3 separate regions of the Homo sapiens genome follow, and regions 1 and 3 are each reported to be linked to region 2. The links are microRNA targets in miRTarBase. Many come from high-throughput screens and were not tested one by one. Region 2 holds a microRNA gene; each other region holds the end of a gene's coding sequence.

Region 1 (4,057 bases), not on the chromosome of region 2:
AAAGAAAGAGCAGCAGGGCCGGGCGTGGTGGCTCACGCCTGTAATCCCAGCACTTTGGGAGGCCGAGGCGGGTAGGATCACCAGGTCAGGAGATTGAGACCATCCTGGCTAACATGGTGAAACCCCATCTCTACCAAAAATACAAAAAATTAGCCAGGCATGGTGGTGGGCGCCTGTAGTCCCAGCCACTCGGGAGGCTGAGGCAGGAGAATGGCGTGAACCTGGGAGGCGGAGCTTGCAGTGAGCTGAGATGGCACCACTGCACTCCAGCCTGGGTGACAGCGAGACTCTGTCTCAAAAAAAGAAAGAAAGAAAGAAAGCAGCATGGAGACAAAAGGCTAAAGGAGACAGAGGAGACAGAAGACATTTTATTCTCACATGTTAGGGTTACAATGAGAACTCCCAAGTTCCAAAGGTTCAAATAAAAATAGCATTTTACAAATTAAAAAAAATACAATTTATATACACAGTGGAATTAGCTAACATCATACAAACAAACAGTGCAAACAGAAAAAAGGAAGCTGCGACTGCGGCAATGGCCAAGGTCCGCAGAGCTGTGGTGCAATACTGCACATCAATACTGCAGGGCTGGCGAGGCCACCTTGGGCCTCTCGAAAGGCTTTCCTGTCACCCAGGGTCATGTCAGTGCATAATTCTGCATCACAAATGCCATACAGTGGACTGGGTCCTGAAAGTGTCCCTTCCAGCTGGGAACTGTTAAGTTAATCAAGGTCAGGAGCAAATCATCCCTCAGCACAAGGTCCCAAAGCCAGGGCCGGGGGCCCATTGGCCCCACTCCCTGATCACCTCGCCTAGGGGCCATGGAACACCAAGCTGGAGATGAAACACAAAACACCACTTCTTACCACCCGTAGGCTCCCCATCCACAGATCTGCTTTACTGAGGCGACTGATCACTGGGTGATGGGGCTGCTAATGGGTGAGATGCTGAAAAGGCTGGTTTCTAATGGACAGAAATGGAAGGAGCGAGGGTCACAGTTGATTTGTCATGAGTGGAGAAGTTGCTGTCTTTGGGCTTATCTGGAAAGCGCAGATGCAGAGAGAGGAGAAAAGGAAACCACGTGCCTTTGCATGGGGCCTGGGTTTGGGGCCTCCTTGGCAGCCGTCCAGTCAGTTTAGGGGAGGGAGGTATTTGCATTCTACTGTCTATCTCTGGGCTAAACTGATGGGAACAAAATATCTGGTGACTTAAACACAACAGGATGTGCACGAGGGATGAATTCCAATAACATTCACCGGGGCAGCCTCAGGGCAGGCGGCTGCTGATCCAGCCCTCGAGAGGCCGGGGTCCTCCTGCAGGGCGTTAGCTCTGCCAGCTCCAGGAAGGGGCGGGGAGAGGGGACAAAGTGTCTGTGACAGGTGATCACACCATTCTCCTGACTTGGACAATTGGCTTCCTTCTTAATAAAAGGAAGAAATAACGTGATCAAGCTCTGAACACTGCCATAAAACACAGCAGCAGCTGGCCAAATAGTAACATTTAAATAAGAATTGCCTTTTTGGTCCTTGTGATGTCCTGCGCTATTTCCTGGGAGTATTATCCCCATTTCATAAGTCAGGTGCATTCTGGGAAGCAGAAACATTTAGAAGTCAAAGCAATTTTGGTCAGGGAGATAAGAAAATGGGGAAAATGGAGGGGCCACAATCAGCTAGAAAAGACCTTGAAGCAGCCCCATCTCTGGAGTGGAATTATTCCCTAGAGTGTGCTGAGCGCAAGATCTGGACCAGCAGAGCCAGGACTGATGCTCACCCCAGGGTGAAAGGCAGACTTGGCCAAGGAGGTCGCCCAGGGCTGGGCCTGAGAGCTGTGCTGCCAGGGCCAGGTGCCGAGGCCCGTGGGCAACCTCCACGGTTTTAAAAAAAACTAAACGTAAATGAAGGCCATCTTGAGCCAAAGCACGTCTGCCCCAGGGATGCCTGCTGGGACTAATACCATGTAGAAGGTGGGGGAAGATAAGCATGAATGCCCAATGCCCAGATGCTCACTTTGGGTGCCTAGTCAGAGGGGGCGGGCCAGCCTGGAGAAGAATGACGTCACTGAACGACAGGGTGCGCTTCCCATGCTTCATGTGAAACCTTCAGGCACGTGCTGGCAGGAAGCATCTTCCCCACGCACCCTCCCTGCGGCACAGGAGGCCCTCCTGAAGGGCCTCTGTATGTAAGCTTGGGACAGCTAGTGCAGGGGAGAGAGAGGTGTTTGTGAAGGGCAGACACCCTCTTCCTCAAATAGGCCATCTGCTTTATCATAGCACATACCTTTCAGTGGTCACTGGCTCAGAAGTGCTTCCTTTCTACTTTGGAAAAAAAATGGTAGCATTCCCCAGAGTTGAGTGAAGCTGCTTTATCCAGGAGTGCCCTGCTTTCAGCTAACTTTGGTGGGTGATGCCAAGATCCTCTGAGCTCTGCCTGCTTCATCAGGAAGACGGAGATCAAAACTTAAGGAAATGAAAAAGGATCTGGGTAGAAACGTGTTACTGGGAGACTGGGAATAATCTGCAGATGGAGAGAAAGCTGCAATGTTAAGAATTAGGGTAGACGTAAATCTGATCCTATTATCAGATTGACCATCCAGGGGTTATTAGTGTGATTTTAATCCTTTATGTTTCTGGTGGGCGGTGGTTCTAAGGAGAGTCAAACCACAGGGCAAGACCAGAGCCTCTGCTCACACCCAGGAGCAGAGTGTTTCCCTTAAAACCAACTAGCGAGGATACCGTGTTAAGAGTCCCAAATAAGGGAAGGACTCTCTGAAATATTGAGAATTTTCTCAGTGCCCAATTCCTAAACCTAGTCATGAACTGTATGTTGTCACTGGCATCTCCCCAGCTTTTGCCTTGGCCAAGTCCCTCTCACACATTTAAGGCAACAGCCGGGTTCTCTAGGAAAGTAGCAAAGATGGCCAGGAACACTGCTCGGAGTGCAGCCCGGGGCCCGCCTGATTCTACCTCTGCTTCTGGCTCTGGTGGAGCCAGGGGTGGGCCTGTGCCAACACTGGAGGGTGGGAACACAGGGAGCAGGAAGTGGGAAGATCCTTGCTGGGGAAGTCAGAAAAGTCCAAGCTCTGATGGTTCAAAACCACCCCCAGGACCTCTGACCAGCAAGGTGTCCGATGACTCCCGGCTTTCTGAGTGAGTGGGTGACTGGGAATCTTCCATGCCCCGGAACAGCCCCAGCCAGCTGTGCCCGCCGGAGTGAGCATGATTTGCCTCCCCAGGCAGCACCAGGAGAGGGTGGGCTGGGCTGTCAGATGGTCTGGTAGTGCTGCCTCAGCCGGGCCTGCAGAAATTCATAGGTGAGGTTGTGCCGTGTGATGATCCCCACGATCTAGGGCAAAGAGAAGGCCTGAGTCACCTTCAGGGTAAAACCCGCTGGCGAGAACAGGAGTGACAGGAGCCGGCCCTGTTAGTTTGTCACAGAATGTGGAGGCCTGGATAGTGCACAGCCAGACACAGCTTGATTGGGATAAACAGCTAACGAGGGCTCACACACTGGAGGCCAAGGGGACAAGGTTAGCTCCAAAAAGGGCTTGGGCCAGCTGGCATCTGAACTAAAATGTCCTTCCACAGGGCACATGCTCAGCGCTCAGCTCCCATCATGACCAGCCTGCTTCACAGATGTGCAAGCGGTGGGGCCCTTGAAGTCTCCTGAGATTATGACCCCTGCCATGCCTCATACTCACCACCTTGCAAAGTGACCTATGGGAGTCATTTGTTACAGGTCGTTACAGTGGTTCCCACGTGTCACTGTTGTTGGGAACTCCAAAGCCACGTCATAAACTATGTTAGGACTCTGTCAGTGTAGTTGGCAATTACATTTCAAGGGACATAAGTTAACCTACTGCAACAAAACCTGTGTAAGTACGCACTATGCATGCCAGGGTTGTGCCGCATAGAAGAAAAGACTGAGGCCGGGTGCAGTGGCTGACGCATGTAATCCCAGCACTTTGGGAGGCCGAGGCAGGTGAATCACTTGAGTTCAGGAGTTCAAGACCAGCCTGGGCAACATGGCGAAACCGTGTCTCTACCATAAATACAAAAACT
Region 2 (4,065 bases):
AGTGCTAGTGTATAAACACTCTGGATAGCTATTTTGTGGTATCCATTCATCAAATGTTTTCAATACATACACCACGTAACCAAACCATGTATCTACCCCTAGAAACACTAGAAGCACAGGTAGACACTAGTTTTTGTTTCAACACCGTAACTGCAAAAACAATGGAAAGAAACTATCAATACAGCCATAATTAAATTATAAAATAATTAAGGTACAGGATAATATTTGACAGTTAAAGGGGCAGTGTTATCTACTTACACTGAAAGGAATTTAAAAGAGCAAGCTACAAAAAAGTATTGATAAATAGTATCTGTTTTATAAAACAGTATGTTACATGAGTATAAAATACATAATGAAGTACACATACTTCTACATAAACAGAATATTAGAAGATGTACGTGCAAATGATAACAGTACTTGTCATTGGGGAGGGGCATGGGATTGGGGATGGTGATTCTGGGGACTCTGATTTTTACTAAGGAGAACATACTTGTCTTTTATAATTAAACGTTTTAAAGATTAAAAAGCATTTTAATACGCTTGTTATTATATTTCCACCAAGCGCTCTAAAACAATATTAAAATATAAAACTTTTCTATTTTTCTTACCATGCCTTTGGGTCCCAAGGTGCTCTTTACCAAGTCTCCAATGGCGATGGCACCAATAAAAGAAGTCTGGAGTAAAAACCAAGGAGATTATCAGAATCAACTTTACAGTCTTCAAGTACAGTTTTATCTTTATTTACTTTTTTTTTTTTTTGAGGCAGAGTGTCGCTCTGTCGCCCAGGCTGGAGTGCAATGGCGCGATCTCAGCTCACTGCAACCTCCGCCTCCTGGGTTCAAGCGATCCTCCTGCCTCAGCCTCCCGAGTAGCTGGGATTACAGGTGCCCATCACCACGCCCGGCTAATTTTTGTATTTCTAGTAGAAACGGGGTTTTACCATGTTGGCCAGGCTGGTCTCGAACTCCTGACCTCAGTTCATCCGCCTACCTCGGCCTCCCAAAGTACTGGGATTACAGGAGTAAGCCACCGCGCCTGGCCTCCAGTTTTATCTTTAAAACAATGCTTAGAACAAGGCTTACCAGACGAGCTGTCTCTGCTCTCTCTTCATCAGCTCCTGCCTTAAAGATGTTAACAGGTGCAAGGGAAAGGGACGCCTGAAAAGGAAAACCAAGAGGCATTCCGTTTAAGTACCAATACTCTAACACATACACTGAGGTGCCTTCCACTAGTCTTACAAGTGGACATCTAAGAGAAAACTCATTTACAACAATGTTTTCAATCAAATGAAGCTTCCATCATCGGAGAAAGCATTTAAGTGGGAGAGAGGGACTTGTAGGAGAGCGACATGGCTTTTCGGATTTACAAGGCCCCCGGGAGTATAAATTATACACCAGCGAGATTGACAGTTACGTACAGCGAGACTAAAGACGATCTTGAACTAAGAATGAGGCAGGGAGGGGTTGCAGGCCATCAAGGTGACGCCTGCCGGGCGGGCGAGGGAACGCGGCCTCCATCTTCCACCCTCGGAAGGCTGCGGCCCCTCCACCCTCTGATGGCTCAGACCCCGTCGCTCCAGGCTCCGCCCCTAGAAGGAGGGCGGAGCGGGTCCCACACTAGAAATTTCTTCGCTCCGGGTGAGGCGCGGACCTGGGCTGCCGGGACTATGCAAAGACCTAGGCACAAGGAGACGCTGGCTTTGCGGTCCACCCCTCCCCCTCGTGGTGAGCTCCACCGGCTGGCCTGGCGCAGGCCGCACGCCCCGCGCATGGCTCGCACCATGTGCGGAGGGCCGGGGAGACAGAAACGGAGCCTACGACCCTAGCAGGACAGAGGAAGCAGTGGGGTGGCAAGAGCACGGCGGAGCAGGGGTAGGGCAAGAGGCAGGGGAGTCAGGCTCACCATGGTTCCGAGGAGTTCCGCACACAAGTGAATCCCCTCACAGCTCGTGCTCGGGACCAGCGGACTGAAGGAAGCCGGAAGTGACGCCACACGCCCTACTTCGGGGGGCGGGGCCCCGGCCTGTCGTTACCGCCAGCAGGCGTCCCATTTTGATTGGAGCCCCACGGGCCGGAAACGCAGCCTTTCACACTGGAGGGGGCGTGGCCGCCGCTCCAGAACAAAGAGGCGGCTGCCGCGCGGGTTGCCATAGAAATGGAGTTCTTGCTCACACTTTTTATTTTCTTAAATTTAATCTTTAAACACTTCTATTAAAGTCACACATGTACACAGTTTAAAGTGTTATATACCAATAAGGAAAAACATAATTTATCTGCCTCACCACTTCCTGTCTCCAGGAAAACTGCTTTCAACTTTTTCAGTTTTTTGGAGGGGCTATTTACTATCATATTCCCAGATAATATTATTGCTATGTTAATTTTAAACATTATTTACTGAGTATTACAGAAGAAGACTTCCTTTTCTCTTACTGAATTTTCAGACGTTATTTCTAACTGGACGTTGACTGCCCAGGATAAGGTCTTGTGAACTGAGAGAGACATTTATAGTATTTTATCTTTGCCCTATTTACTCATTTTCAGGAATTTTTGCATTTCGGTCTTTTTTTTTTTTTTCCTCCAATAGTAGAGACGACTTATTAGTCTTTGTTTATAATAAACTGAAATATTTGGGACTGATCTTGATGTCTGCCAAAACCTTGGCAGACATCAAGATCAGTCCCAAATATTTCAGTTTATTATAGACAGTTTTCTACTTTCTCTAAGTTGACGGATGTCTAAAAATTTGTTCTCTAAAAAATTTTTCTGTCATCTACTGATACCCTCTTTTCTCCCTTTGACTAACTGATCGCTTAAGCTCCTCGGCAGGGCGCGGTGGCTCACCCCTGTAATCCCAGCACTTTGGGAGGCCGAGGTGGGCGGATCACCTGAGGTCAGGAGTTGGAGACCAGCCTGGCCAACATGGTGAAACCCTGTCTCTACTGAAAATACAAAAATTAGCCGGGCGTGGTGTGCATGCCCGTAATCCCAGCTACTCAGGAGGCTGAGGCAGGATAATTGCTTGAACCCGGGAGGCAGAGGTTTCAGTGAGCCGAGATCACGCCGCTGCACTCCAGCCTGGGCAACAGAGCGAGACTCTGTCTCAAAACAAAAACAAAACAAAACAAGCTCCTGGATTTTTCTTTTTCTGTTTTGTTTTTTTTAGAGATGGGGTCTTCTATGTTGCCCAGGCTGGCCTGGAACTCCTGGGCTCAAGCAATCTTCCTGCCTTGGTCTCCTGAGTAGCTGGGGTCTCCTGGATTTTTGACATTGCTAACATTAACAGGAATTTTCAATTTTTTAGTTGTTTCTACCCTTCAGATTTCCTCTAAGTGGGTTGATTTCCACCAGGGGTTGGCAAGCTGTGAGGAGTCAAACCCAGCCTGCCAGTTGTTTTTTGTATGGCCTGAGAGCTAAGAATAGTTTTTACATTTTTAAGTGGTTGAAAGAAATCAAAAATTTCCTGACACATGAAAATCCTGTGAAATTAATATTTCAGTGTCCATAAAGCTTCATTGGAATCCATGGGCATACCCATACATATTTACTCTGTCACAATACGATAGCAGAGTTATGTGGCAGAGTTGAGTAGTCATGACAGGTTGAATGGGCCCACAAAACCTAAAACATGTATTATCTAATTCTTTACAGAAAAAGTTTGCTGACCCTGGTTTACAGTATTCCTCAGGTCCAACATGAAAAGGGGAGTTCAGGCTGGACAAATTGTTATTTTAAATCTCCCAAGAGTTTTCTCTTCTTTGTAGGAAAATTTGGTCTTCTTTCAGGAAATGTACTTTCCTAGGCAGATCCCAAATCGCATTCTGGAATGAGAAGATTCACAATAAAAAACTAAGATGCCTGCACAATATTGAAAAAGGTTGTTTTTATTGTGGGCAAAATTACATACCTGGAGATATTTATTATGTCCTCTGGTAGGCAAGCCTGAGACTGTGTGTGATGGGGAAACCAATGACTGCTCCCTGCTGGGCTTTGAATGTAGCCAGAGGCATTTGGATGGGGAGAAGGAGGCAGGCCCTGCCACCTTGTGGAACTGAGGCTAGAGGCAGCC
Region 3 (4,057 bases), not on the chromosome of region 2:
ACTTCATAAACACTGCTTCCCCCATCCCTCACACTAAGATGCTACTCCAATTACATTTTATATGAACAAAAACATCTGAAGACCACTGCAGGGGTCTACTTTTATTGTGCTCTCTGAAGAACAGGATTTTTGACTTTTAGACTGAATTCAACTTTTGGTGAGAAAACAGTTTTGCTCTTTTTTTTCACTTCTCATAGGACATAATTATTTTATCTTGTGAAGTGTTTGAAAGTGTGTTTATATTTTCTAATGTGTAAAAATAAATGGTGTTGGCCTTAACAACTTGCCACTTGATGACATTTTGGAGAAGTTGAAAATAAATGAATATGGACAAATACATCGTTAAATTGCTCCAATTTCTCACCTGAAAATGTGGACAGCTTGGTGTACTTAATACTCATGCATTCTTTTGCACACCTGTTATTGCCAATGTTCCTGCTAATAATTTGCCATTATCTGTATTAATGCTTGAATATTACTGGATAAATTGTATGAAGATCTTCTGCAGAATCAGCATGATTCTTCCAAGGAAATACATATGCAGATACTTATTAAGAGCAAACTTTAGTGTCTCTAAGTTATGACTGTGAAATGATTGGTAGGAAATAGAATGAAAAGTTTAGTGTTTCTTTATCTACTAATTGAGCCATTTAATTTTTAAATGTTTATATTAGATAACCATATTCACAATGGAAACTTTAGGTCTAGTTTCTTTTGATAGTATTTATAATATAAATCAATCTTATTACTGAGAGTGCAAATTGTACAAGGTATTTACACATACAACTTCATATAACTGAGATGAATGTAATTTTGAACTGTTTAACACTTTTTGTTTTTTGCTTATTTTGTTGGAGTATTATTGAAGATGTGATCAATAGATTGTAATACACATATCTAAAAATAGTTAACACAGATCAAGTGAACATTACATTGCCATTTTTAATTCATTCTGGTCTTTGAAAGAAATGTACTACTAAAGAGCACTAGTTGTGAATTTAGGGTGTTAAACTTTTTACCAAGTACAAAAATCCCAAATTCACTTTATTATTTTGCTTCAGGATCCAAGTGACAAAGTTATATATTTATAAAATTGCTATAAATCGACAAAATCTAATGTTGTCTTTTTAATGTTAGTGATCCACCTGCCTCAGCCTCCCAAAGTGCTGGGATTACAGGCTTGAAAGTCTAACTTTTTTTTACTTATATATTTGATACATATAATTCTTTTGGCTTTGAAACTTGCAACTTTGAGAACAAAACAGTCCTTTAAATTTTGCACTGCTCAATTCTGTTTTTCGTTTGCATTGTCTTTAATATAATAAAAGTTATTACCTTTACATATTATCATGTCTATTTTTGATGACTCATCAATTTTGTCTATTAAAGATATTTCTTTAAATTATACTGAATTAACAGTTATTTTGATATTCAACAGTTTCTTATCAAAAGACAGAAGTTTGATTCTCCTCCTATAGTTTAATCTCACACTCCTGAGGCTAAAAGTGTAAGTTCAGGTTCAAAAGAAAGGCTTCAATATAAAATTATCTAAATTTGGATAAAATAATGATGAGCTTTACATTAATATAAGCTCCTGAGAAGCAAATATATCCTACAGATGTAAATATAAAATATAAACTTTAAGGAAGGAACAAAAACTAAATATACCAAGGAAATATATAAAGCATCTCTTACTTTTCAAAAATTTTGAAAGGGTATGACATAGAGCTACAGTAGTATTTTCCAGACTTTTTTGAGCCCAAAATCAGTAATACATATTAATATACCACAGAGAAATGGTGGTATAGAAGGAATAAATGAGAGTTCATGTGCAAGAAGGGAAAGATAAAGAGAGGTGAGTTTTCAGGTGTCACCATCAGTAACTAGCTTCAACTAATTATGTCTTGACCAGTTTATTGGAAACTCCTGGGTTAGATAATACTAATTTGTCTCATGCGTCCAGTATAGGGAGCCTATGGACAGGGGCCAATGTATCTTAAACAGACACACAAACAATGGAAAGCAAACATTATCTGAATGGGATTGGGTTAAGTTTGGAAAGAATTCCTCATGGAGACTGATTTGTGCTGGTTTGGCTAGGCACAACTGGCCTGTTAAGAGGGTAGGACCATATATAAAGTGGCTTGGGAAGCAGAGCCGGATGGAATGTTGCCCTGCAGAAAGCATATTGGCTTACTTGAGGTGGGGGCTCCCTAGTAAAAACATTTAGGATTGAGGGAAGATCTGATTTTGGATGGAGTTTAGATTTGCTAGGAAAGGCACTAGGGACTATTGTCAATTCTATAATAGATTGTGCTGGGTGAGACAAATCACCCAGGTCAAAGGATTGGAGGATTTTTATTTTATTTTTGTCTGAGATGGGAAAAGACTCCAAGTGGGGAAATTAACTACTGATGCATAAATTACATGCTAGATTATGGTAAAAGGGAAAACCAGAAATAAAAACATAGGTGAGACCAAATAATTTCATGAGTGGTTCTACTTGGATTTCTGCCCTATGCCTTAGACTTTGAGGCTTTGTAACTCTCAAGCATTCCAAAAGGACAAAGGAGAATGAAGAAAGAAGGTAAGAAAAAGAAGAGAATATGTAACAGTCGACTCTAGACGAGAAAACACCAAACGCTCAAATATTTGTAAAATGGGAGGCCATGCCCCAATAGCAATTGTACGCTGTAATTACCCAACGTTTACAGAAATTCCTTTAAAAGGACCCTCGGGGTTGCGGTAATAATTAAACTGTTAAAAAATATCAAAACAAGCGGAATAAACAAAATCTTCTATTCCTAAATTGCTCTAGAGGTTCTCCAATCCCCAAAGACACAGAGAAGGGTTGTAAGATCTCAGTACGCACATTTGCACTTTCATCTGGCCAGTGGCGCCAGCCTATCAAATACAGTAAATGGCTTTTCCCTTTCAAGAATGTTGGAACTTTGGAACTTACAAAATACTAAATAATTTGCCCTTATTCGAACGGGCGCCTCTCCTCTTAGGTTTATAGTAATGCCACCTGAGGCGCGGCTCCATAGCGATCATCACAGGTGTGGCGGGAGGGAGGGCGGCAGTGACCACGAGACGGGGCGCAGAGGGCGAGCGCACGGCTGGCAGTGACAGGTCGCGACCCAGCTCCTTGCGGAGAGCAGAAAGGCCCAGACGCCAGGGAACAGGACTAGCCCAGCTACCGCCTCGCGCCTCGCGCCCTGCGCCCACAAACCCATCGACGTCCGCGCAGGCGCACTACGCCGGTGCCCGGTGCGAGGGCGTCACCGGAAGTGTCCCGCGGCGCCCCGGATGCGACCGGGCAACAGCGGTTGCCAGGGCGACGGGAGCTTTCCGGAGCTGCTGGTACTCCCGATTGGAGACGTAGAACCGTTACTTGTCGAGGGCCTTAGCGGCCGCCGTGACCCTCTCGGGGATCCCACGATGTTCTTCTACCTGAGCAAGAAAGTGAGTTTCCTGGGGGGCGTCCTCGTTTCTCCGCCATTCCCGCAGCCTGCGGCGATTCCCGCTGCCTTCCCGAGAAGCCAGGCTCCTTCACCCGGTCCTGGTCGTGGCTTCGCCATTCCGCAGCCATCCTTCCCGCCGGGTCCAGCCTCCGACCTCTTCCTGCGGTTCCCAGAGCCTCAGTCTTTGGCCGAGCTTGCTGCCCTCTCGCAGCACTCTCCCATTCCTGCCCCTGGCTAGGTCCTTTTGGGTGGCTTGAGGATAAGTCGCCACGTGCTACCCTATGTTTCCTCCTCCACTTGTTGCTGATCCACGTGATTTAAACTCTTTGGATCACCACGAGCCATTGGGCAAGAGAAAAGAAATAACAATAGGATAGCCTAAGTTGTAGGTAAAAAGGAAGAGGGACTGGTGGTATGGATTTATACCCTCTCCCCGTCCTCCCTTTAAAAAATCCATCCGGTGAGACTCTGGCGTTGGCTTCCTCCGCAGTCACTATCCTTCTCTTTTGTGCACTTCTTTCCCTCTTTCCCAAATGCTAGAGCCCGGGTCAGTTCAGGGGACCATGCCCATTTTCACAACAGCTCATTTTTTT

The links. The annotated mature microRNA hsa-miR-3913-5p reads UUUGGGACUGAUCUUGAUGUCU and lies in region 2 at 2,662-2,683, opposite strand. An mRNA with a match to its seed (bases 2 to 7 or 8) in the 3' UTR can be bound and repressed. Matches are read on the target gene's strand: a 7mer-m8 pairs with bases 2 to 8, a 7mer-A1 pairs with bases 2 to 7 and ends in A, and an 8mer does both.
Region 1: the mRNA of CLCN6 is a reported target of hsa-miR-3913-5p. Seed matches in the 3' UTR shown: 7mer-m8 at 2,185-2,191.
Region 3: the mRNA of MATN3 is a reported target of hsa-miR-3913-5p. Seed matches in the 3' UTR shown: 7mer-A1 at 1,032-1,038 and 7mer-A1 at 1,157-1,163.

What each region holds. Positions count from the first base shown.
Region 1 is chr1:11,839,427-11,843,483 of GRCh38, reverse strand. CLCN6 (chloride voltage-gated channel 6) reads right to left here. Exons shown (of 23, transcript NM_001286.5): 23 at 354-3,341. The coding sequence ends at 3,261. It also overlaps NPPA-AS1. Among named protein-coding and RNA genes, the nearest start is that of NPPA, 6.3 kb to the left of the region's middle.
Region 2 is chr12:69,583,362-69,587,426 of GRCh38, reverse strand. It overlaps MIR3913-2 (microRNA 3913-2), which reads right to left and starts at 2,704; the gene lies at 2,605-2,704. CCT2 (chaperonin containing TCP1 subunit 2) reads right to left here and starts at 1,968. Exons shown (of 16, transcript NM_006431.3): 1 at 1,903-1,968; 2 at 1,083-1,157; 3 at 609-674. The coding sequence starts at 1,905. It overlaps MIR3913-1 (microRNA 3913-1), which reads left to right and starts at 2,604; the gene lies at 2,604-2,705. RefSeq lists an enhancer at 1,598-1,937.
Region 3 is chr2:19,989,400-19,993,456 of GRCh38, reverse strand. It overlaps MATN3 (matrilin 3), which reads left to right. Exons shown (of 8, transcript NM_002381.5): 8 at 291-1,405. The coding sequence ends at 346. WDR35 (WD repeat domain 35) reads left to right here and starts at 3,352. Exons shown (of 27, transcript NM_020779.4): 1 at 3,352-3,465. The coding sequence starts at 3,442. WDR35-DT (WDR35 divergent transcript) reads right to left here and starts at 3,253. Exons shown (of 3, transcript NR_110235.1): 1 at 2,963-3,253. RefSeq lists a silencer at 3,132-3,211 and enhancers at 3,372-3,421, 3,052-3,555, 3,572-3,621.